7 linked regions of the Homo sapiens genome follow. The protein of the gene in region 7 interacts with the protein of the main gene of each other region in a pairwise test. Each region holds a gene or a part of one and is shown on either strand. Other genes may lie near its edges. The genes, in order: EXOSC7, NXF3, WTAP, LLPH, SUPV3L1, RPRD1B and EIF4ENIF1.

Evidence for each region.
Region 1: the proteins of EIF4ENIF1 (region 7) and EXOSC7 interact in a two-hybrid assay, tested with the Homo sapiens proteins (one large-scale study listed by BioGRID).
Region 2: the proteins of EIF4ENIF1 (region 7) and NXF3 interact in a two-hybrid assay, tested with the Homo sapiens proteins (one large-scale study listed by BioGRID).
Region 3: the proteins of EIF4ENIF1 (region 7) and WTAP interact in a two-hybrid assay, tested with the Homo sapiens proteins (one large-scale study listed by BioGRID).
Region 4: the proteins of EIF4ENIF1 (region 7) and LLPH interact in a two-hybrid assay, tested with the Homo sapiens proteins (one large-scale study listed by BioGRID).
Region 5: the proteins of EIF4ENIF1 (region 7) and SUPV3L1 interact in a two-hybrid assay, tested with the Homo sapiens proteins (one large-scale study listed by BioGRID).
Region 6: the proteins of EIF4ENIF1 (region 7) and RPRD1B interact in a two-hybrid assay, tested with the Homo sapiens proteins (one large-scale study listed by BioGRID).

What each region holds. Positions count from the first base shown.
Region 1 is NC_000003.12:44,986,244-44,989,743, reverse strand, and holds part of EXOSC7 (exosome complex component RRP42), read right to left. Parts: intron 605-3,500; coding exon 503-604; intron 195-502; coding exon 100-194; intron 1-99. UniProt on the Homo sapiens protein: Non-catalytic component of the RNA exosome complex which has 3'->5' exoribonuclease activity and participates in a multitude of cellular RNA processing and degradation events.
Region 2 is NC_000023.11:103,090,344-103,094,378, forward strand, and holds the start of NXF3 (nuclear RNA export factor 3), read right to left. Parts: upstream 2,801-4,035; 5' UTR 2,681-2,800; coding exon 2,653-2,680; intron 1-2,652. UniProt on the Homo sapiens protein: May function as a tissue-specific nuclear mRNA export factor.
Region 3 is NC_000006.12:159,754,163-159,756,819, reverse strand, and holds the end of WTAP (pre-mRNA-splicing regulator WTAP), read right to left. Parts: intron 1,793-2,657; coding exon 1,209-1,792; 3' UTR 501-1,208; downstream 1-500. UniProt on the Homo sapiens protein: Associated component of the WMM complex, a complex that mediates N6-methyladenosine (m6A) methylation of RNAs, a modification that plays a role in the efficiency of mRNA splicing and RNA processing.
Region 4 is NC_000012.12:66,124,251-66,127,750, reverse strand, and holds part of LLPH (protein LLP homolog), read left to right. Parts: intron 1-3,500. UniProt on the Homo sapiens protein: In hippocampal neurons, regulates dendritic and spine growth and synaptic transmission.
Region 5 is NC_000010.11:69,197,234-69,200,733, reverse strand, and holds part of SUPV3L1 (ATP-dependent RNA helicase SUPV3L1, mitochondrial), read right to left. Parts: intron 2,363-3,500; coding exon 2,182-2,362; intron 1,631-2,181; coding exon 1,537-1,630; intron 455-1,536; coding exon 235-454; intron 1-234. UniProt on the Homo sapiens protein: Major helicase player in mitochondrial RNA metabolism. Component of the mitochondrial degradosome (mtEXO) complex, that degrades 3' overhang double-stranded RNA with a 3'-to-5' directionality in an ATP-dependent manner.
Region 6 is NC_000020.11:38,043,746-38,047,245, reverse strand, and holds part of RPRD1B (regulation of nuclear pre-mRNA domain-containing protein 1B), read right to left. Parts: intron 1-3,500. UniProt on the Homo sapiens protein: Interacts with phosphorylated C-terminal heptapeptide repeat domain (CTD) of the largest RNA polymerase II subunit POLR2A, and participates in dephosphorylation of the CTD by RPAP2. Transcriptional regulator which enhances expression of CCND1.
Region 7 is NC_000022.11:31,455,343-31,458,842, forward strand, and holds part of EIF4ENIF1 (eukaryotic translation initiation factor 4E transporter), read right to left. Parts: intron 3,309-3,500; coding exon 3,133-3,308; intron 646-3,132; coding exon 510-645; intron 1-509. UniProt on the Homo sapiens protein: EIF4E-binding protein that regulates translation and stability of mRNAs in processing bodies (P-bodies). Plays a key role in P-bodies to coordinate the storage of translationally inactive mRNAs in the cytoplasm and prevent their degradation.

The sequences.
Region 1 (3,500 bases), on a different chromosome or scaffold from region 7:
GTATAAAAGTGGGTTCAACAGCAAACCAGAGGTTCATTTTCTGAATCTTCATCTTTAAAATCATTTATCTTTAGAAATATCTGCATAGACAGTACTGACCAGTCAACAAAGAACTCCAAGTAGCCTTCATTTGGTTTCTCCAGCTTCGGCGTCCCCATTTCTGCTTTCACTCCCACCAAGATGTCTGTGTGACCCTGCAGACACATGCAAGAAGAGTCCTCACTCAGAGTATGCAGCCAGGTACTCCACCACCTCCCTCCTCTTCTGGACATACACCCCTGGGGGACTCTTTTAGGAGCAGTGCTAAGACTTGGAAAGTGGTCTTTGGAGGAGGTGAGCAGTCTTTTCAGATCTGGATAGACCCCCCCTCCCTGAGTTTGGCTCGGATCTTCGATTTCCCCAAGAGCAATTTGCATTCCAAAAGCCAGACAGCGTCAGCAGCTCATTCCTTAGGGCCTACTCATTTCTCCACCTGGGCTTGAACCATGGTCACAGTACTCACCAGCTTGACCCTGGCGGACCCACTAGTGTTGGACACCACATCAGTTTCCACTTCGACACATCGGTAGTCCTCACAGCCACGGCCATCCACACGGAGGTCTTCCTAGGTGTTAACAACCACAGTCCTATAGTCACCCCAGATCAACAATAACTCCTAAACGGACTCACCCATTTTCCCCCTAGAGAAGATATATGCAGAATATCTCTTTTCCTCTTAGTGGATCATCTAAAATTCTGTCCTTGTAGCTAACAACAACATTACTATTTTACATATGAGGAAATGGAGACTCAGAGAAGTTGAGCGACTTGTCCAAGGTCCTACAGCTAGTGAAAACAAAGCTAGTTTTCCATGCCAGTTGTGTCTGATTGCAAAATCTATACTACATACCACTATATAGAATATGCACACAAAAACAAGATCTGAACAAGAGACAAAATAAGCCACCTCTCTCTAAATCTGCAATTCTTAAATTGCACCAAGAAGTATATGTTGTCAGAGCTACAGAGTACAATCATCTCAACTGAAGCCCTCCTACCCCTAAAACTCAACAAGATCTACTGTGTAAATAGTGAAAGACACCTAATCTTCTAAAGAGGCAGTCTCTAGAACAGGGTCAACAAACTAAGGTCCCTTGTTTTTGTAAATAAGTTTTACTGGAACATAGCCATGCCCACTTGTTTAGGTAATGTCTATGATTGTTTCTGCACTACAAAAGCAGAGCTGAGTGGTTGGGCCAGAGATATGACCCATAAGGCCCCAAATCTTTACTATCCAGTCCTTTACAGGAAGTTTGCTGACTCTTTTGGCAGAAGATGGTTTTCAGGGTGGTCTACGCGCTGCCTGTTCCTTCTGCCCATTTATTTACTCCTTCAATTACTTGTATCAGTACAACTCATTGGTATCTTTTATGCTATGGTTATAATCCACTACTATCATTAGTTATTTTGCTGCTCAAAGTGTTCCAAATTTGGCCACTGGGGGCTTCTTTGGGTTAGTTTTTGTGCTCTTTCAACATGCCTCCAACTTTTTGAGTAATTATCTACTTTCTGCAACACAAGATATCTATCCTCTTGTGTCTTCTCTGCCCAGCCCTAGGGATCAAGCCTTTCTCCAAGGAGCCCTGGTTGCTTTTATTGGGGAATGGTACTTAAAACCAGGAACTAGGCTCTAAGTTCATTGCTGTTGGAGTATTATTTCTTCCAGAACTTCTCAGCAGACAGAGCTAGAAAATACAGTTATGTATACTAACCACCCCCACCACACACACACAAATCTGTTTAATTCTGTATCTATCTACATATCTATTAAAAAGCCAAGAGTTCATACTGATAGATCAATTCCAATCTAACATCACATGGTTCATTCTAACCTTCCTCTGTTTCTTATTTGTAACTTCTTTCTCAAAGAAGGAGAAAGCTGGCTCTTATTATCTAACATGTATTTCTGTATTTGTTCAATCTTAGTATACACAGTTTCTGAACTTCTAACCCATACCCCTGTGAGAAACAAATTTACTAATAGCACACAGTATTTGTGTAAAGTTCTGTCTTTAGCCTCAGAGTATCCAGGCAAAATACTGTTTTCCAGTTACTTCAGTTCTTTTCTTCTACGTGCCCTTCAGTGTGGTTACATTACTCACTTGTAACACAGGCTCATTTGTAACTTGTAACTTTTTTTTTAGACTATGGCTCTGTCGCCCAGGCTGGAGTGCAGTGTGGCACAGCTCACTGCAACCTCCGCCACCTGCGTTCAAGCGCTTCTCCCGCCTCAGCCTCTGAAGTAGCTGGAATTACAGGCACATCACCATGCCTGGCTAATTTTCATTTGTAAATTTTTGTTTTCCATTTTGGGTTCCCCCACATCATGGTTACTTTTAATTACTTATTTACTTTCTGAGTTTGTGAGCTATCACTATAGTTCTGAGAGAAAACTCAGAAAAGTATGCTCAGAGAAATGTCACTCTCCTCCGTATTATGCTATTTTCATGCCCCTTTCTTCCCATTCACCCTAGGTTTCTCTTCAGTTTCAGGTTTATCTTTCTTGTATTTTCTCTGCACAAATAAGCAAATACATGAATTTTTTAATATCTCCTTGTTTCTTATATGAAGGGTGGAATACTATAGATACTCTTACTTTTTTTTTTTTTTTTAACACTTAACTATATATATGCAGGAAATCATTCCACGTTGGCTCATGGAGCTCCTTCTCATTCTTTGTAAACATTTTTCAAAAGCAGTTTTTTTCAGAAAAAGAATCATTAGCTTAATCAGATTCTCCAAGGAGTTGATGCTTCCCAGAAACATAAAAAATAAAATAAAACACTGCTCTAAAGTATGTGACTGACAGTTTATCTTTAAACTGCCTGGCTAACTGCATATGTGACTGACTTTTTTGAGAAATTAAACAGAAAAAAGCAAAACACTGCAGCACCACACAGTACCAATGATCACCCTCTGCCATACTTGCTTCAGGTCTTTCACCCGTTTAACTTTTCAATGACAGAAAATAAACATCACAAATCAGGTGGAAGGTCCTGTGCAGCCCATCCTTCCCCCAGCACCTTTCCTCCCTGGAAGATATTGAGAGGTGACAGCGTGCTGGCAGCCCTCACAGCCCTCGCTTGCTCTCGGCACCTCCTCTGCCTGGGCTCCCACTTTGGCAGCACTTGAGGAGCCCTTCAGCCCGCCGCTGCACTGCGGGAGCCCCTTTCTGGGCTGGCCAAGGTGGGAGCCGGCTCCCTCAGCTTGCTGGGAGGTGTGGAGGGAGAGGCGTGGGTGGGAACCAGGGCTGCGGGCAGTGCTTGCGGGCCAGCGCGAGTTCTGGGTGGGCATGGGCTCAGCGGGTGGGTGTGGGCTAGGCGGGCCCCATACTCTGGAGCAGCCAGCTGGCCCCAGGCAGTGAGGGGCTTAGCACCTGGGCCAGCAGCTGCTGTGCTCAATTTCTTGCTGGGCCTTAGCTGCCTTCCCACGGGGCAGGGCTCCGGATCTGCAGCCTGCCA
Region 2 (4,035 bases), on a different chromosome or scaffold from region 7:
AGTAAGGTAGTCATTCCTGTAGAGGGATAAGATGCTTGTAGAGTTGTGGGTATCATTCCAAATAGAACTGTTATGATTTGGGAAATATTCTAAACTACAAAGGACTTATTTCATAATGACAAATTGTCCTTCACCTTTGCCTTTGTTTATAAAATCTTCAGGAATGACATTTTCTAGCAATAAAAGGAATTAACCATTATGTTTCTAAGCTGAAAAGAGGAACAGGTGGGTAATTATCCTACCATACTTAAATATAGTGGAAAATCCTCTATTGAGAATGTGGATAAAAGAACAATTGTAAATTTTGCATCATAATCTGAGAACTCCCTTTTGGGGCAGGGGGAGGCGGGAGGGATAGAAGGTGGGGGTGATCTGCTTGCTTCTTTTACCACAGGTGATTTTTAAGTAACTTGGGTTTAATTTACAGAGATGAAACATGGCAGTCTGAGTAAAACACCCAATGATGTAGAAGTGTGCCTGTTTATTACGTAGAGACAGCCAACAAAAACAGAGGAGAATCACATGCTTTAAAAAACACTTTCTCTTAGGTTTCCTTGGGATATGTTCTTCCAGTGCAGGCAAGATAGTGGTTTACAGAATTTGCTTAATACAAAACTTTTCAAGAACTCATCTGTTACACAAAAGCAAGGAATAGCTAGTTTATATTTTCCAATAATGTTCAAGGTTTTCTCCTTATTATGTCTGAAATTATTGATTTTGGCATTTTTCTAAGCAATTTATGTAATTTTATTTGAAGGAAATGTTTTATATACTCTTTTTCCCGACCTAAACAGGGAGAGTCCTAACAGTGTTGTGTTTGTATGATTATGAGGCTTTATTTGCCTAAGTGATGCTACTATACTTTTTTTTTGACCCATGCCTTTTTAAGCTGTTTCATATTGAAAGTTGGAATATTGTAAAAATTTTGTCAAAGATGTACTGAAGTGCTATTTGAAGTACCTATAACAAAACACAGTTGGTCCTCCGTATCCACGGACTCTGCCTCTGTGAATTAAACCAATTGCAGATCAAAAATAATAGGAGAGAAAAATATAAAAATAATACAAATAAAAAATACAATATAACTGTTATTTAAATAGCATTTACATTCCATTAGGTATTAGTCTAGAGATAAAGTATGCAGGAGGATGTGCGCTGGTTATATGCAAGTATGCCACTTTATGTAAGGGACTTGAGTATACTTGGATTTTTGGTATCTGTGGGTGGGCAGGGTAGGGGGGGTCCTGGAACCAATACCCCATGGATACCAAGGGACAACTGTACTTATTTACCTTTATTATTATTGCAAGCTTCTTAAGGAAACTTTATAGGAATGAAAATACACATGTTAAGAAGATTAGGCCAGGCGCGGTGGCTCATGCCTGTAATCCCAGCACTTTGGGAGGCCGAGACAGGTGGATCACGAGGTCAGGAGATCGAGACCATCCTGGCTAACACCGTGAAACCCCGTCTCTACTAAAAATACAAAAAATTAGCCAGGCATGGTGGCGGATGCCTGTAGTCCCAGCTACTCGGGAGGCTGAGGCAGAAGAATGGCGTGAACCCGGGAGGCAGAGCTCGCAGTGAGCCGAGATTGTGCCACTGCACTCCAGCCTGGGCGACACAGCAAGACTCCATCACAAAAAAAAAAAAAAAAAAAAAGAAGAAGATTAAACATTAGATATTAGATGGTCTGTTGCATGCTAGAACTGTTAGTATTGTTGGATCAATTACTTTGGTTTTATGAAAAAATTAATGATAAATATCTTTAAAGAGAACTAGAAGAATTTTTTGTTTGATTCTAGGCTGTAACATGATTATTTACGGACATAGTTTGATTGGCTGGCTAACTTAGTAGAATTAATTGGCTGGCTAACTTAGTAGAATTATTGTTTTTTTTTGTACTGCAATAGGGCTTATAATTGTAAGATAAAAATGTGTGTGTGCTTAAGGGAAGTAAGTGCTGGTTAAAATTATTGAAAAAATTTCAGAATACTTTAAAAATAAAGTTTCAAGTTATACAAAAAAAAAGAAATTCTAAATTTGTATGCATGTCTTAACATGGACCAATCTATGTTTAGATACAAAGCAAAAACTGATCTAAGTAAATAGAGAAATAGTTAAAACCACTGTGATGTGGGAATTTAACACACCTCTCTGAGTAACAGATAAAACTAGCAGACAAAAATTCAGCTACATATAGAAGATTTAAATGGCATGAGTAATAAGTTTGCTTAAATGACATAGAACACTGCACAGAAAACCTTCACATGGAACATTCCAGAATAAGTCATATGCTGGGCCATAAGGCTAGCCTTGATAAATTTCTGGGGCTGGGGTGGGAGGTAATACAATCTACCTTGAATGGTTAGTGTGAAGATTAAAGATGTATTCCCTGCCCCACTACCACCTCTAGTGTACATCCAAGGAATGTTAATTTTTACCAACCCCTGCCTCAGGTGACCCTCCTCATACCTCAAACCCTGGCCCTGAGAAGGCCACAAGACTCAGGCCTGGGCCCTTGCCACTGCCCACCCCCATCTAAAGGGAGATTGGCTGGGTGTTATGTGGGTTAGGGTAAGGTGGGGAAGGGGGCTCAGTCCCTTTTGCCCTGTGAGACCTGAGACTCCAGCCTCATGCTGGCCAACTCACCCGTAGTGTGTCCTGAAGGCAGTGACATTTTACCAATGTCCTTATAGGGCTCTCTTGAGGAGAATCTGTGTGGCCTGGGGACGGGAGTTTGGAGAAGATTGAGGAGGGCTGCTGACGAAGGCGAGAGCAAGCCTCAAGCCTTGCTTACAGGAAGTTCCTTCCCCAAGCATAGAGAGGAGTGTCCTAGGAGTCACAGAATTAACTTCCTGTTCTTACCACTCCCCAAAGTTTGCTGCCAGCCTAACACCCAGGGAGATGTTTCTAATGTAGCCACTCCTGCAAAGGTGGTTAGCAACAATCACAATCATGAGGCCTAGGACCCAGATACTTATTGAAACAAACACGGAAAACTCAGCTTGCTGGTCATCTCCAGTGCATTACATTGTATTCATTTACTCTGCAGACTCAGAGACTCAGAGACTCAGAGTGCCTATGGTAGCTCAAGCTCTGTACTTGCTACATTACTTTTTTCTCCATGTATTCCTCACAAGGGGACTCTCAACTCAGAATCACCAGCTTCCTGAAGGTGCTGAGGCTTAATGAGGTATAGGACCTTGTCTGGAATGATTCAGATGTGACCTGGAGAAACAAAGTGGAAATGAGAACCATGGAATAGTGGGTGACCCCTCTATGCACAGCTTTTCTAAACTCTTATAATATTTGGGGTTTACTTAAGTTAGGGCAAAGTAAGACAATGTTCTGCAAATACTCGTGTGACTGGAATTAACTACAGCCCATCCTAGAGAGAGAATACAAAAAACAGACCAGGAAAATATAAAGTAAAAGTTTAGTGTGTCACTGTAATGAAAGTAGAAAAGAATCAAGTATTGTCTTAAAGACAAAATAAAGTATAGTCAATGTAGATGGATACTCCTAATGATTAGAGCCAGAAATGTAGCTCTTAAAGTCTCAGGCCAGAGAGAGGGAATAAACTAGTGAGAGGTGACAGCTTGCTGGCAGCTCTCACAGCCCTCGCTCGCTCTCGGCACCTCCTCTGCCTGGGCTCCCACTTTGGCGGCACTTGAGGAGCCCTTCAGCCCGCCACTGCACTGTGGGAGCCCCTTCCTGGGCTGGCCGAGGCCAGAGCTGGCTCCCTCAGCTTGCGGGGAGGTGTAGAGGGAGAAGCGCTAGCGGTAACCGGGGCTGCGCGTGGCGCTTGCGGGCCAGCTGGAGTTCTGGGTGGGCGTGGGCTCGGTGGGCCCCACACTCGTAGCAGCCGGCCAGCGCTGCTGCCCTGGGCAATGAGGGGCTTAGCACCTGGGCCAGCAGCTGCTATGCTCAATTTCTCTCCAGGCCTTAGCTGCCTTCCCGCGGGGCAGGGCTCGGGACCTGCAGCCCGCCATGCCTGAGCCTCACCCCCACCCCCGCCTCCGTGGGCTCCTG
Region 3 (2,657 bases), on a different chromosome or scaffold from region 7:
CCAGCCTGTGCAACATAGCGAGGCCTTGTCTCTACTAAAATTAAAATAAATGTAGCTGGGTGTGGTAGTATATGCCTATAGTCTCAGGTACTCGGAAGCCTGAAGTGGGAGGATCACTTGAGTCGAGGACTTTGAGGCTGCAGTGAGCCATGACTGCACCACTGCACTTGAGCCTAAGTGACAAAGCAAGACCCTGTCTCAATTAAAAAAAAAAAAAAAAAAAAAGCCTAAGAAATAGATGACTATTTTCTTTATACTTTTCTGTATTTTAAAATATTTTGTAACAATTATAAGTCAAGAAAAAATTTTAAGTGTAGCCCTAAACTCCAGCTCCGTTTTGCAAAATAAGGCATAAATTAAAAATTGTGTGCAAAATCGTAATCGATGCTTGGTCTTAAGTTTGACTGTTGTGGTACTTGAAGGATAATGAGTAGAAATTCAATGACTCAATGAAAATGACAAATGCTAAACATACACCCAAAACAAAACAAAAAAGCTAATTAAGGAGTTACAATAAAAATCTTTATTTAGGTTTGGTCAGTACAGGTAAGATATACTGGAGTCACAGAGCAATATGCATTAACAGGATACAACAGTTCATAAAAACTGAGTAACTATGCACACAAATTTCTTAAACAGTCACCTAAAGAGAAAATGCACAGATGTATGGTGGAAAAAACTGTATCTAACACTGAAACTACTACAGGACTCCATCAATGAGTCCAACTTTTAGTGATAAAAAACTACTGTACTGGGCAAACTTGGCAGTCATAAACCCACATCTACTCTAACAAGTCTGAATGGTGCATAAGTACAGTAACAGCATGAGTACGAATGCCCTTACACAGCACAGATTCTAAACAGACAGATTTATACAGACATCATTGTGTTGTATTTTAAGGAAAAATTTCCATTTACAATTTCACATTAACTCATATAAAAATAACTTGACCCTACACAAAATGTCCTTTTAGCAACATTCAAAGTAATTAACTGTTACAATTTCCAAAGCGGCAGAAGTATTGAAGCAAAAAAAAAAAAAAAAAAAAAAAAAGAAAAGAAAAAAAAAACAAAGAAAAAAAACAACAAAAAAAAACCAAAACGTACACCCACAAAAAGGCAAATTGTGACAAAAGTATGCATTAATTTTCTGGACAGTATCCTCTCCCAAATTAAATGACACTGTATAAAAATTTGCTGAAAAAATATTACAAAACTGAACCCTGTACATTTACACTTGAGTCCAAGCCATTCTGAACGTGGCGGGAACCCACAGTTCGATTACCTTTCCCACTCACTGCTTTCTCCTCTTGAGGGTCATGACTGGAGTCTGTGTCATTTGATTGGTGTGTGAGAGAGTTTTCACTGCCCGTGGGAGAGTCTACACTTTCATACCCCGCACTGAGTTGATTTACGTAACCACTACCTCCTCTGCCAGTTCTCTCCTCTGAGCTGTTGGAGGACTTATTACCATTCCCTGGAGAAGAAGGAAAGTCATCTTCGGTTGTGTTGCCCTCCCTGTGAAATCCAGACCCAGACGTCCTCTGGCGGGAGGAGCTACCATTACTTGGTCCGTTTGTCAGACGACTGCAGTCTTTACTTGTGGCCTCTGACTGTTCTACAGGTTCAGAAGCTGTAGTCCTGCTGGTACTTGGGGCAGAGGCCTGAGACTGCTGCTGCTGGTACTGAGCCAACTGCTGGCGTGTCTCCTTCAGCTGCTGCTGCAGAACTAGAATGGTACTCTGCATACCCTCTACTTCTTCATCAAGCTGGATGATGAAGTCATTCAGTTCTGTGCAAAGGAGAGTCAGACCAACTTTAATATCGTTTATAACATTGAAAAATGTTTCTTTAGTGCCTGCCACAAAGCAAGGGAGTCAATAAACGCTCAAGTAAACAAATACAATTCTAAAATCACACTACATTTAAAAATTTTGCTTGGAATCTTAAAATATGACTGAGTTTGTTTTGGGGGAAGTCAGATACTTAAAATAATATACAGTTGGCCCTCCACATGCAACAATGAATTCAAGCAACTGTAGAAGGAAAATATTCAAGGAAGAAAAAACTGGGTCTATACTGAACATGTACAGATTTTTTTTCTTGTCATTATCCCCCAAACAATACAGTAAAATAACTATTTTCCTAGCATTTATATTGTATTAGGTACTGTTAATCTAGAGATGGCTCAAAGGGGAAGATGTACATAGGTTTATATGTAAATATGACATCATTTTATATGAGGGGCTTACTGTGGGAGGTCCTGACACCAATCCACCATGGATACCGAGGGCAACTGTATTAAGCAACCAAGTTAAAATTGTTTTGATCCATCTTGCCATATGCCTGATTACAGCCCCAAAGTTTGACTCACGTTTACCTATGGGCCCACTATGGCCAATCCCCTTATTCCTGATCCAGTGCCTTAGTTCCATAGCAAGTCTGATCCTTAAGGATAGTGTGGTCCTCTATAACACTCCAAAGAGGCCCATGTTCTCAACCAAGGACTGTTACATATAAAAGGACAAAAGTCACAGGAAATAATTCCTGAAGATTTTGAAAAGGTAGGTAGTTCAGAAGAAATTACTTGGCTACTGATCATCTTTGCAATTAACCAGAGACACTAATTTTCAATTTAAAATTTCAAAGAATTTGGA
Region 4 (3,500 bases), on a different chromosome or scaffold from region 7:
AACACTTGCCTTCACTTGCTGTTTTCATTTCCTCACACACACATCACCCCTCCCTATTGGTTCTTTTTTGTTGTTGTTAAGGCAAAATCCACATAACATAAAATTAACCATTTTAAAGTGTACAGTTCAGTGGTATTTAGTACATTCATGTTGTGCAACCATCACCTCTAGTTCCAAAACACTTTCCTCACCCTAAAAGGAAACTTAATACCCATTAAGAAGTCTGTCTCTCCTCCTCCTACCCCCAGCCTCTGGCAACCACTAATATGCTCTTTTCATGTGTGAATTTACCTGTTTTGAATATTTCTTATAAATGGAATCATATATAATGAGACCTTTGTGCCTGGCTTATTTCCCTTAGCATGGTGCTTTTGAAGGTCACGCACATTGTAGCATATATCAGTACTTCCTTTCTTTTTAAGGCTAAATAATAGTCCATTGCATGTACCACGTTTCATATCCATTCAACGGTTGCTGGGCATTTGGATTTCTTTCCCCTTATGGGTGTTGTGAATAGTGCTGCTGTGAACATTCAGGTGCACAAGGTTTTGTTTGATAAGTGGAATTGCTGGGTCATATGGTAATTCTTTTTAATGTTCTCCACATCAGCCACACTATTTTACATTCCCACCTGCAGTGTTTGAGTATTTGAGTTTCTTCACATCCTCACTAATACTTGTTTTCCATTTTCGGATTATAGCCATCTTCGAGGGTATGAAATAGATTCTCATTGTAATTTTGATTTGAAGTTTCCTAATGACTAATGACATTGAATGAAGTGTTTTTTGGTTTTTGTTTGTTTGTTTTTTGTTTTTTTTTTTTGAGATGGAGTCTTACTGTTGCCCAGGCTGGAGTGCAGTGGCATGATCTCGGCTCACCACAACCTCTGCCTCCCAGGTTCAAGCAATTCTCCTGCCTCAGACTCCCAAGTAGCTGGGAATACAGGCGTGTGCCACCATGCCCAGCTGAATTTTGCATTTTTAGTAGGGTTGGGGTTTCACCATGTTGGCCAGGCTGGTCTTGAACTCCTGACCTCAAGTGATCCACCTGCCTCAGCCTCCCAAAGTGCTGGGATTACAGGTGTGAGCCACCACACCCGGCTGAACATTTTTTCATATGCTGATTGACCATTTGTATTATCTTTTTGGAGAAAGGTCTACTCAAGTCTTTTGCCTCGTTTTTCAATTACGTTGTTTGTCTTTTTATTATCGGGTTGTTAAGAGTTCTTTATATGTTCTAGATACCAGATGCCCACATCCACTCTTGATTCTTTTGGATTGATCCTGTTTTCTTTTCTCTCCTGTTTTCTATTTATTTTGTTATACCCTCTAATTTCCTTGACCTTGAATTCTGGTTCTTATTACTTGGTTTTCTCTTATATTTTTAATTTCTAAAAGTTTTTCTTTTTTTTTTTACTTTTTTTTTTTGAGATGAACTCTCACTCTGTCGCCCAGGCTGGAGTGCAGTGGCATGATCTCGGCTCACTGCAAGCTCCATCTCCCGGGTTCGCGCCATTCTCCTGCCTCAGCCTCCCTAGTAGCTGGGACTACAGGCGCCTGCGATCACACCCGGCTAATTTTTTGTATTTTTAGTGGAGACGGGGTTTCACCATGTTAGCCAGGATGGTCTCGATCTCCTGACCTCGTGATCCACCCGCCTCGGCCTCCCAAAGTGCTGGGATTACAGGCGTGAGCCACTGCGCCTGGCCTACTGTTCCTTTTTCATAGCTTTGTGTTCTTTGTGTTTTGTAAATGCCCCTTGAGTCATCAACTCTGTGTTCTTAATGGGCATATATCTTCTCCTAAGGGTATTAATTACAATTTGCTTTTGAAATTTTTATTTATGGTATGTATTATCTGTCTTTCCTCTTGGAATTCCCTCCCAAGCCCTTCCATTCCTTTACTTTTGTCTCTTTCTTTCATATTAGAAGCTTTTCTCAAATGTCTGGTGATCAGTGGTCATTGTTTGTATTTAAAAGTGTGGCACTACAATGATGATTGGAAGCTGGAGGGAGACAAGGTGTGGGAGAGGGTCTGTCAACTGCTAGATGTATAGAAGATTTGGAATGGCTCCAGGAGGTTTTATTCGGAGATCTCCTGTATCAGAATCTGTTAAGTCTTTTTTTTTCCTCATCATCCCCAGAGAGAAATTATCTTATGTCCTGCCTGGGGAATTCTGGATGCCCTTATTCTTAGATATTTTAGGAGCTAAAGGGTGGTGAGACTGAGACTGAGGGAGTCTCCCCATTTAGTAATCTATTTGTTATCAATTTGGCTCTCATCTCTACCCTCAAGTTCATGTTTTTCCTTATTTCTACTCTTTCAACTGCCTGCCTGATTTCTTAAGCCATAAACCTAGTAGTCATCCTTGATTCCTCTTTCCTTTATTCCCCACATCTAAACCATTAGCAAGTCTTACTGATTGTCCCAAAAATACATTAGAAATCTGTATCCATTTTTTTCCTGCTTTCACCTTGATTCAGAAGGCCGTCATCTCTTGCCTGTACTATTATAGGAGCCTTTTTACTTCTCTCTTCCGCTCTTGTTCCCTTCTCATTTATCTTCTACATATCCACCAGTGTGATCTTTTCAGAAGGTAAATCAGTTTATATCACTGCCATGCTTAAAAACCTCATTATCTTAACATGTTCTTACCAGCGCCTACCAGTTCTTTTTTTTGCGGGGAGACAGGATCTCACTTTGTTGCCCAGGCTGGAGTATAGTGGCTGTTCACAGGCGTGACCAAGCCCACAACATCCTTGAACTCCTGGCCTCAAATGATCCTCCCACCCCAGTCTCCCGAATAGCTGAGACTACAAATGCCTATAGATACTATACCTGGCTGAGGTTTTCTTTCTGTTTGCTGTGTTATTCTCCCGTCAACAGAACACTGTAAACTCCGTGAGGGCTAGGAGTTCATATGGACCACTATATCCCCATAAACTAGAACAGCACCTAAAATAATCATTCAACACCTAGTTATTGAGTGGCTGTTATATACCAGACACTATTCTAGATACTGTGGAAACAATGGCAAATATCTAATATAATGCCAGGTAGTCGAGATAATAGAAGACTTTGTGTATCCTGATAAGGAGGTCCCAGTGAGGGACTCTGAGCATGTCCTTCACAGTGGAGAAGGTGATAGGTGTACCACAGCATGTTTGCACTGAGCTTCCTGCCAAGTCTCCTATCAGTAGAGCTGGATCTCTGGGTGTTACCTAGCTAGGAAAAGTATGCCAGCCCCAGGATGTGTCCAGGTCTTCTCTGTTGAGTGCCTGTCTCTGCCATTACAACCCTGCTGCTGACTACTCCATCGAGTTCATTAGAAGTTCGTTCTCAGTTCATTATAATTTAGTTCAAGTTCTTAAGAAATGGCCAGTCATTCCTAATCAGTTCATTACATCTAAGGTGTATCCCTTAGAAGTGTAGGTATGCTTACTGAACTCAAGGAATCACTTAATATGAGAAATGTTGTTGTAACTCACATGTGCTCAGAAC
Region 5 (3,500 bases), on a different chromosome or scaffold from region 7:
ACTAAACTTTGTCAATCTGGACCTTCACTTGCATACCATTCTCTGATCAAAGAACTCTGTGGCTCTCCAAAGCAATAAAGTAGGGCTTTTTTTAATGCAGTTTTCATGGCACAAAATTTTCTTTCACTTATGTCTGTATCCAGAAATGTGTCTGAGGTGAGAGTCTGGATGGTGGGTGAGGGAAAGAATGACTCTCCTCCACAGAGAAGCAGTAGTTAACATGTTACCTCTTACCCTTATAGGATCCACAGGCCTCTTCAAAATTTCCTTTAATAAACTGAGATCTTCATGATTCATTGTTGTAACCTCTCCTTCTTTAAACCGTGAGCTGAATCTGCCAGCTCTGCCAGCAATCTGCAGGGCTTGAGAGGTTGTGATTGGTTCTAGTTCTCTCTCTCCCTTTTCATTGATACTGGGCTTTATAAGGGAGTAAAAAATAATTCTCCTTATGCTCCTGAAACAGAAATAAAAGTGATCCTGCAGACTGTATGAAAAACCCTCCAATACTTGGGTCATTGCATAATGCTCACTCCAATACTAGCTTAGGTCCTCTTGCAACCTTGACTGCCACTTACAAAATTAAGGAAAGTCTGGCACAGTGGCTCACACCCATAATCCCAGCACTTTGGGAGGCTGAGGCAGGAGGATTGTTTTGAGGCCAGGAGTTCAAAACCAGCCTGGGCAACATAGCAAGACCCAAGTCTCTACAAAAAATTAAAAACATCAGCTAGGTTCAGTGGTGTGTGCCTGTTGCTCTAGTACTCGGGGGGCTGAGGCACAAAGACCGCTTGAGCCCAGGAGTTTGAAGCTGCGGTGAGCCATGATCACACCACTGTACTCCGGCGTGGGGCACAGAGTGAGACTCTGTCTCAGAAATAAATAAATACATAAATAAATAATATTTAGGCTTAACATTGTTATCATTTAGAGATAATAACTAGCCCCATGTGCATAATAGGCACTCGGACACCTGACTGAGAAACTGAAAGTAAAGTGACGTAGTACAATAGGTTAGCAGTAGTGGTGGGCAGCATTCAAACGTCCTAGTGTGGGCCGAGTGTAGTGGCTCATGCCTGTAATCCTAGCACTTTGGGAGGCTGAGGTGGGAAGATCACTGGAGGCCAGGAGTTAGAGACTAGCTTGGGCAACAGGGTAAGACCTTGTCACTACCCAAAAAAAAAGAAAATAACCAGGCTTTGTGGTGTGCACCTGTGGTCCCAGCTACTCTGGAGGCTGAGGCAGGAGGATCACTTGGGCCCAGGAGTTCAAGACTGCACTGAGCTACAATTTGATCACTGCACTCCAGCGTGGGTAAAAGAGCAAGACCCTGTCCCTAAGAAAAGTCCTGGCACTATTTAATATTTTCTTTTTATTTCCCTCAATAGGTGTAGGCAAGACAAACCTCAAATCTAGCCTATAATATTTATTCTCCCAAATCATAGCGTTTGGTCATTAATGCCAATTAGAAAACTGAAAAACAAAAAAACCACCATTTAACTCACCAAATATTCATCTTATTAAAAACAAATTACTTACAAATTAAGTCCCATGCCAATTGCATCTGTAGCAACCAAGATTTTGCATGGGTCATTGGGATCATTAAACTTTTTTGCTTGAGCAAGTTTGGTCCCTAAAACAAGAACAATTTATGTTAAATCAGTGTTCTCAGTCTTTTATTACATCAAGCTAAGTACATCTTGGAAACCCTCACCTCCTGTTCTTCCCATTTTTAATGATAAAACCTTTACTGTTTCAAACTTTATTTCTTTATATCCTCAAAGAGCCACTTATCCTTTACATCCATTCCTTCAAATACTCCGTCATATAGCAACACAATCCCCCACCACACTAGCCTTATTCCTGAGGACACAGATTTCAGGACTACAACTTAAAAGGACATGGTCAAGACCAGATTTCAATGACATTTCTGTAAGAAAATAATAAACTCAACATTTAAGATACAGTCTAATAATAGCAGCAACTAACAAGAACTATAATTAAAATACTTCTATTTCCACTAAGATGAAATAGAAAATTATTTATTTTATATGACGTTTAACAAATTACCAATACATCAAGCAGCTTAATTCAATATTGTTTACCATTTTTTTATATATATCTCAACATAAATTGCAAAGATAGGAGATTTCATATCTTGTCACGAGGAAAGTCAATAATTACCAGGTGGGAGACTGCCATATATAACAGCTGATTCTAATCCCCGAATTTCAATCTGCCGACTCACAGAATAAATATCATTCTTGCTAAAACAGACAATGCAGTCCCCAGGCCGAAGGTTATCTAAAGATTCTAGTGCATGGTCCAGCACAGAAATGGGGGTAAGCCTCTTATAGTCTCGAACCTACAATAAAGACATGAAATGGCAAAATGACACACCCAACTCAACTTCTTGTGACTAGTAATTAAGTGAAAAGATTGTAATGCAGTTAAGAGTAGCTAAAAACTGATAAGTACCAATGTTTTTCAAAAGAAAACACAGAAAAACATTTATTTTGATATTATAAGTGTTACCATCACTTCTCATTGGCATCTCTAAATTAATAAGATGAAACAGAGTGTTTCACCTGTTTTCAAAGCTTTTTCTCATATATTTCATTTTCACGGCAATGTGTTAAGTTCAGAAAGGTTATTAACTGCTATTTCCATTTTATAAAATAGTAAAACTGAGCCCAATAAAAAATTAATGTCTGAGGCACATTTTGCAAGTCTAACCTTCTGTGACTTGTCTAAAGAATGCAAAGCTAAGAATGGCAAAACACAGAATGGACTCCAAAATTTCTTCCACTATATTCCACTATCTCTCCTTGAAAACTGAGCACAAAACTAAAATAACAGGCTAATTCAAAACTATTTCCTTGGCTTATGCTTATAATCCCAGCACTTTGGGAGGCCAAGGTGGGAGAATTGCTTGAGCACTGGAGTTCGAGACCAGCCTTGGTAACACAGTGAGATGCCCTCTGCTCAAAAAATAAAAAATTAGATGGGCATGGTGGCAAACACCTGTAGTCCCAGCTATTTGGGAGGCTGAAGTGGGAGGATCACTTGAGTCCAGGAGGCTGAGACTGCAGTGAGTTGTGATTGCACCACAGCACTCCAGCCTGGGTAACAGAGTGAGACCTTGTCTCAAAAAATAATAATAATAATAATAATTCATTTTACTATAGAACTCTGGTAAAGAAAAAGAGAAGCAGGATTAAAAGGAAACCAGTTACTTCCAACTCTAAGAATTTCAAAAAGGAATATAAACTGTGTCTGGCAATTAGATGTGTATCAAAGGCCCCAATATCTGACATACAACACTTTGAAAACGACAAACTTGCTGGGTCTCCAACTTCTAAGAGTACTGATTTATTTAATTCGAAGAGATCTACTCAAGCCCCACAAGGTTTTGTCAAGAAGTGAAGAATTTCCTGTACTCTTGGAAGACTTAGGGTGTGATGACCACTCTGTCAGAACTTCAGATCATGAGGTTCAATCAA
Region 6 (3,500 bases), on a different chromosome or scaffold from region 7:
ATTAATTCTTTTTTTGTTAAACTTTTTAAAGTCAGAAGTGAGGGTTCGGGAAAAAAAAGGAAAAACATTTCTACTGCTAATTTTATAAAGCTTAAAAATATGACCCAATTACTTGGTATTTGTGATAAAACACTTTTACTCCACCTTCAAAATATATCCGGAAATGAGTTATTTCTCATCTTTTCCTCTGCTATCAATCTGGCCCAAGGCACTATCATCTCTCGCCTGCATTACTACAGTAGCCTCATTACTGGTCTCCTCGCTTCCACCCTTGTCCTCCTACAACCTGTTCTCGAGTTTTCAAAATACAATTTTAGCTGCTGTACTAAGGCAGACCACGTCACTCCTTTGTTCAAAATTGCCAACATTTCTTCCCAGTATCCCTCAGAATAAAAGTCCTTATAAAGACTCCAAGGCCTTTCCCAACCCAGCTGTTATTTCCCTGGCCTCATCTCCTACCCACTCTTCCCCACCCCCGTCCTCCAACCTCCTGCCTCAACAACAGCTACCCTAGCACTGCCTCAGAGCCTTAGCACTTCAAAAGTTTGCTTTGCCTGGAACCACATTCCCCATGTGGCCACACAGCTCAATTCCTCTCCTCCTTCAGGGGTATGTTTAGTTACACCACCTTCAGTGTGTCATTCCCTAATCTCCACGTTGAAAATAACACTCCCTGCCCCTACTCAATTTTTCTCCATACAACTTTTCTGGTATGCTGTATATTCAATAGTTTACTTTTTGTTTACACGCTTTCCATTTGAATGTAATTTCCACAGGGGTGCAGATTTGTCATTTTCTCCCATTGCTATATGCCCTTGAACAAGCACAATGAATATCTGTCAAATTGTAATCTTTTCCAGAAAAATGTATATGGGTTTCGGTAAGTAATACAGTTACTTAACTTTCAACAATCATCTTACTGTATCAAGGTCATGGCAGAAATCAACTAAGCACTCCTCAGCTCGACCAATGAAGGTTTACAAAGAATAAGAAGGCCTGGGTCCTGACCTCTAGGGCTCGACTCAGCAATCCCTCAGACCTGTTTTTAGTCTCCTTTCCCTACCCTACCTGGAACTTTGCATTCCAGCAACACCCACCCGTATGTATTTGCTACTCAGAATTTGTTCTCTCATGTGCATGTGCCTTTGTTCATGCTATCTCTTCTCCTTCAAATGGAATAGCCAAAATTGAACAAGGCAAAGGGAAAGGAGTAATTCAAGTAGCTGAAGTATATGGGGGAATGTGCGGAAACTGCAGAAGAATCTGGAAGGAGGGTGGAATTCAATTACAGCGAGCCCTGAATGCCATATTAAAGCACGTGGCCTGCAGGCAATGGGAGGTCCCTAATGTGAGCAAATGTATAGCTTAGAAAAATAAAGTCATTATAATTAGTAAAACCAAATTGCAACTAATCAGAACTTAGTTAATGAACTAGCTGGTACTTTTAGCATAAAATCTGTTTGCTGCAGATTCTCTGTTCGCTTAAAAGAAAGAGAAACCAGTCTCGAGAATAAATTCTTATCAAGGACTTAGTTTAAAAGTAGGTGGGTATCACAACACACACCCACCACCCACCATTCCTGGAGATACTTGGGACTCCATTCAGGCTAAGACTGGTTTTGTGTACAGTTTCAGGCACAGTGGAAAATGATGCTCAAACCTGTTATAACCACAAAACATTTTCAAAAGGCTTTTACTACTAAAGGCCAAAAGGGGGGTTCTAGTTTAATTAGTGAATATAACTAACCAGGACAGATATTTCCTTGAACATTGTGGTAAATCAAAGTTTTGCTAGATAAGTTTCAAAGTTATACATAAAATATTCAAGAAATCTTTCTACTGATTAGGTTTTGAAGGAAGTAGCTCCAGCGAAATGGAAGTCACTTTGGCATCTGGAATTAGATACAACCAAAGTAATAAAGCCGTTTTATAACAGAAAGAGAAATATTTTCAGGTTGTACTAACTCCAATCTAAACTGAGAAATCTTTAAGTGGAAAAAAAGACTGAACAATCTTTGCCAACAATCTATGAATAAAGTGGAAGATGGCAAATAATTACATACACAACTTAATATTACGTTGAACACTTCATATTTTAATTCTGATTAATAACAAATTCAATCACTTTATTTTTCAATACAGATAGCAAAACTGACCTTTAAGAGTGAAAAATGTATATGATACACACAAACAGAATTGGCTGCTTGACGTGTCAGCTGGACACCTGAGTCCCTGCAAAGCCAGCCTTGGGGGCCTTTTCTTCCTCTACAGTTCTATGGCACTTTTTCAGTACAACCACAGTAATTTGTACAACTCTGTCTTATCTCATGCACAGCAGGCCTATGGTAGGCCTACTAAGGGCAGGAATTCTAAGTATTCCCTACACTTCCAACAGTACCTCATGTAAAGCTGGTTCAGAAAGGAGTTAACACAGAAGGCCAGACTGCTACCCTTAGGGAAGTGGTCTGGGAACTTGGGATTTCCGAGTGTCCCTACCATTTCCTAACTGGTAAGGGTGGTTTACTGGGCCTAAATTGTTTGTGCAAGCAATACGGTTCTTAATGAACACCTGAGCCTGGCGCGGTGGCTGACGCCTGTAATCCCAGCACTTTGAGAGGCCAAGGCGGGCAGATCACAAGGTCAGGAGATCAAGACCATCCTGGCTAACATGGTGAAACTCCGTCTCTACTAAAAAATACAAAAAATTAGCCGGGCATCATGGCGGGCGCCTGTAGTCCCAGCTACTTGGGAGGCTGAGGCAGGAGAATGGCATGAACCCGAGAGGCGGAGCTTGCAGTGAGCCAAGACCAAGCCACTGCACTCCAGCCTGGGCGACAGAGTGAGACTCCGTCTCAAAAAAAAAAAAAAAAAAATGAACACCTGATTTATTTCTGGGAGCTTAGAATTTTGGCAGAGGGTGTCTACATGACCAATCCAATAAAAACTCTGGGCACAGAGTCTTTAATGAGCTTTCCTGGTAGGTTACACATCATACACATCACAACTCAGTGCTAGAGGAATTAAGCGTGTTTGTGGAATAACACTGAGAGAGGACTCGGAAGCTTATACCCAGAGCGCTCCAGTCTGCTGCGGGTACTGCATGCACATCACCCTCTGCTGCTGCTGCTGCTTTGGATCCTTTAGCTGTAATGAATCACTGCCATGACTATGACTACATGATGAGCCCTGTGAGTCATTCTAGGGAATCACCAAACCTGGGAGTGGTCTTGGGGCCCACAACAATAAGTAAATATCATGTGGGTAACTCTCAAATTTATGTCTCCAGAAATCAAGTCTCTACTGAGCTTCAGACTATTTTATCCACCTGCCTATTTGGCATCACTCCTTGGAATATTCACTAGCCACCTCACACTCGGCCTGGCCAAAACAAAACTCGTGATTTCCTCCACCAAATCTTTTCCCCAATCTTCACTTCAGTAAAGGGCACCATCAGTCATTCCTTACATCAAAAACCTAGAAATCGTCTTTGATTTCTCTTT
Region 7 (3,500 bases):
ATTAATCTGTTCCAGTAAAGAAACATGCCTTCGACAGTATTTTTCTTTCTTTCTTTTTTTTTTTTTTTTTCTTTGAGATGGAGTTTCGCTTTTTCGCCCAGGCTGGAGTGCAGTGGCGCAATCTCGGCTCACTGCAACCTCCGCCTGCCAGTTTCAAGCGATTCTCCTGCCTCAGCCTCCTGAGTAGCTGGGACTACAGATGCCCGCCACCACGCCTGGCTGATTTTTGTATTTTTAGTAGAGATGGGGGTTTCACCATGTTGGCCAGGCTGGTCTCAAACTCCTAACCTTGTGATCTGCCTGCCTTGGCCTCCCAAAGTGCTGGGATTACAGGCGTGAGCCACTGCACCCGGCCCCTTCAACAATATTAAAAGGACACAAATTGAAGGCTTTTCAGTTGTCCAGAGACCCTTTGACCCTAATTGACTCCTGACTAATGAAGATAAAATGAACCATATCAGGGAAAAACCCAGGTTTACCTTCAAGGGCAGAATCTGAAGCCATTTTACCTGCAAGTCTCTCTAGCTCTTCATGTGGTGTTGACCCAAGACTGCTGGATCGGCTTCCTGATCTGCTCGGGTTAGAGAACCACCTACTGAACCGACTGGCAGAGACTGACCCTTCTCCCAAAACATCTTCTATCATCTGAAGAAAAAGACAATAAAAACTAATAGTTTCTAGATGAAAAAGGACAAGAAGGTTTAAATCTTATGAAAGGGTCACTTACTTTGAAACTTCCTTTCATGCTCGTGACCTGAAGATAAATACTCTCAGAACCTAGGAATTTGAACACCTTTTTCTTCCTCCATCCTGGGTAATTTCTGAATAACCCAAACTTGAGTATAACCATCTACTTACTTTCCTTTTTTATTTTTTATTACTTTTTTTTTTTTTTTTTTGAGACAGAGTCTCGCTCTGTCACCCAGGCTGGAGTGCAGTGGCACGATCTCGGCTCACTGCAAGCTCCGCCTCCCGGGTTCACACCATTCTCCTGCCTCAGCCTCCTGAGTAGCTGGGACTACAGGCGCCTGCCACCACGCCCGGCTAATTTTTTGTATTTTTAGTAGAGACGGGGTTTTACCGTGTTAGCCAGGATGGTCTCGATCTCCTGACCTTGTGATCCGCCCGCCTTGGCCTCCCAAAGTGCTGGGATTACAAGCATGAGCCACCACACCCGGTCTACTATTTTTTTAAGACAGTCTCGCTCTGTTGCCCAGGCTGAAGTGCAGGGGTGCAATCTTGGCTCACTGCAACCTCTGCCTCCCAGGTTCAAGTGATTCTTATGCCTCAGGCTCTCGAGTAGCTGGGACTACAGGCATACGCCACCATATGCCTGGCTATTTTTAATTTTATTTTTAGTAGAGATGGGTTTTTACCATGTTGGCCAGGCTTGTCTCGAACTTCTGACCTCAAATGATCCACCTGCCTTGGCCTCCCAAAGTGCTGGGATTACAGGCATGAACCACCACTACTTTCTAAGAATATAAAGCAAAGCCTCTATGCTACAAAAAGGTTTTTGGGTTTCTATCCTTTGCCTCAGGAGTAAATCCACGTACTACCAAATGTTCTCAGAGAACAGTGTCAATGCCACAGCATTCCACTGACAAGCTGATGAGTGACCTTCAACTAAATATCAAGTATGGGGAACTGATGAAAGAAAACCATTGCTTCAAACTTAGTGGTTTCAAGGTTGTAATGAACATTATGAAATTCAATCTTGAGAGTTTCAGAAGCCAAAGGCTAAAAAAGCAGAGCTCATAAAGACTGTAATTCCAAGTCAAAGTTTAGAAAAAGTATGATTGTGGAAGATGAAATTTCAACTGATCTCTAATTTCTGTTTGAGATTAATAGAGAGTTTTCAGGTGTTTTCTGTTTCCAAATCCAACCTCCATAGTTTACATTTAATAAGGACAATTAAATAACACACTATGAACAATAAATTGCTTTGGTAGAAATTATGAAATAGTGCCAATCTTTCTTAAAAACTAGATTTAAGCATTTAAAAAATTTTTCAATTCAAATCATACCATAAATTCAGTCAAATATCCAAATTGATTTTTTGCAGTATTCTTATCAATATTTAGAAAAGACAAGATAGAGCAAACATCTATCCAAAAATCAGACATATCCTTGAAAATAAGTCATATACTTTCACGTCAATCCCACTGATAAACAGAAAACATGCTTTTTCAAAAACTGGTACATGGATGACAGAATTAGTGACTGTTTTATTTGAAATCTGGAACCCACAGTTTCCAAAGTTAAGCAGGGGAAGCTTAGATTTATTCTTTGTTCTTATCTGGAAGAATGTTTTCATAATCCATACCCAAATTAAGCCACAATATACTTCTTTTGAAGGGATTTTAATTCAAGACCCTAATTATTGTTTCCAGAATTTCTATTTTCAGAGGAATTATCTAGACAATTTCAATCACATTCCACCTGTAGATGCTCATACCTTAAATAATGCTGACTTTTAAGTGCACTAATTTTGTATTAATTAAAATATAAGATAAGCATGATACATCACTGTGAAAAATTGGGGAGTGTATCCAAAATATAAGCATCTTAGTGATAAACAGGAATTCTAAAAATAACTTTAAAAAGCCAGGTGCGGTGGCTCACGCCTGTAATCCCAGCACTTTGGGAGACCAAGACAGGAGGATCACAAGGTCAGGAGTTCAAGACCCGTCTGGCCAACATAGTGAAACCCCATCTCTACTAAAAATACAAAAATTAGCTGGGCATGGTGGCACACACCTGTGATCCCAACTACTCAGGAGGCTGAGGCAGAAGAATCGCTTGAACCCAGGAGACGGAGGTTGCAATGAGCCAAGATCGTGCCACTGCACTTCAGCCTGGGTGACAGAGTAAGATTCCAACTCAAAAAAAAAAAAACAACAAAAAAAGAATTTTTAGTCTAACACCACCAGCTTAAAAAAGAGTTAACTGGTACAAAAATCTCATATTATCCATTAAGCCTCTCAAAACAAAGCCAACAAAAATTTAAATATGTAAGAATAAAAGCCAAAAACCCCAAAAGCATCTAGCAAAACAACACTTTCAAACCGATGTCTTAAATACTCAGGTCAAATTTAACCACACATTTTTTAAGTGTGCTGCTACACTCACCGAAGCCAAGCATGGCACCTTATCAAGGTTAAAGAACTCATTAAAGTCAAAGTCTCCTGGGGACTGCTCAGGCAAGACAGCATCCCTTGGCACTTCCTGATCAGCCGCAGGCTCCTGTGCAAGGATGACCTCCACTTCATCCTCTTCGGCCACTCCTCCATTGCACTCTACTATACCTGAAAGCAAAACCAGGACAAAAACCGTCTGATAAGTAAATCACTCCAGTGTCCCTCTGTGGCTTCAGCCATCAGTATACATGTAGAAGAGCCACACATGACTTAAAAAGCAGACTTCTCGTGCAGGTACTGTACTTGCAAGAATAAAACAGTCCCCCTTCTACGGGAGGCAGAAAAGGAAAAAAGCCTTAA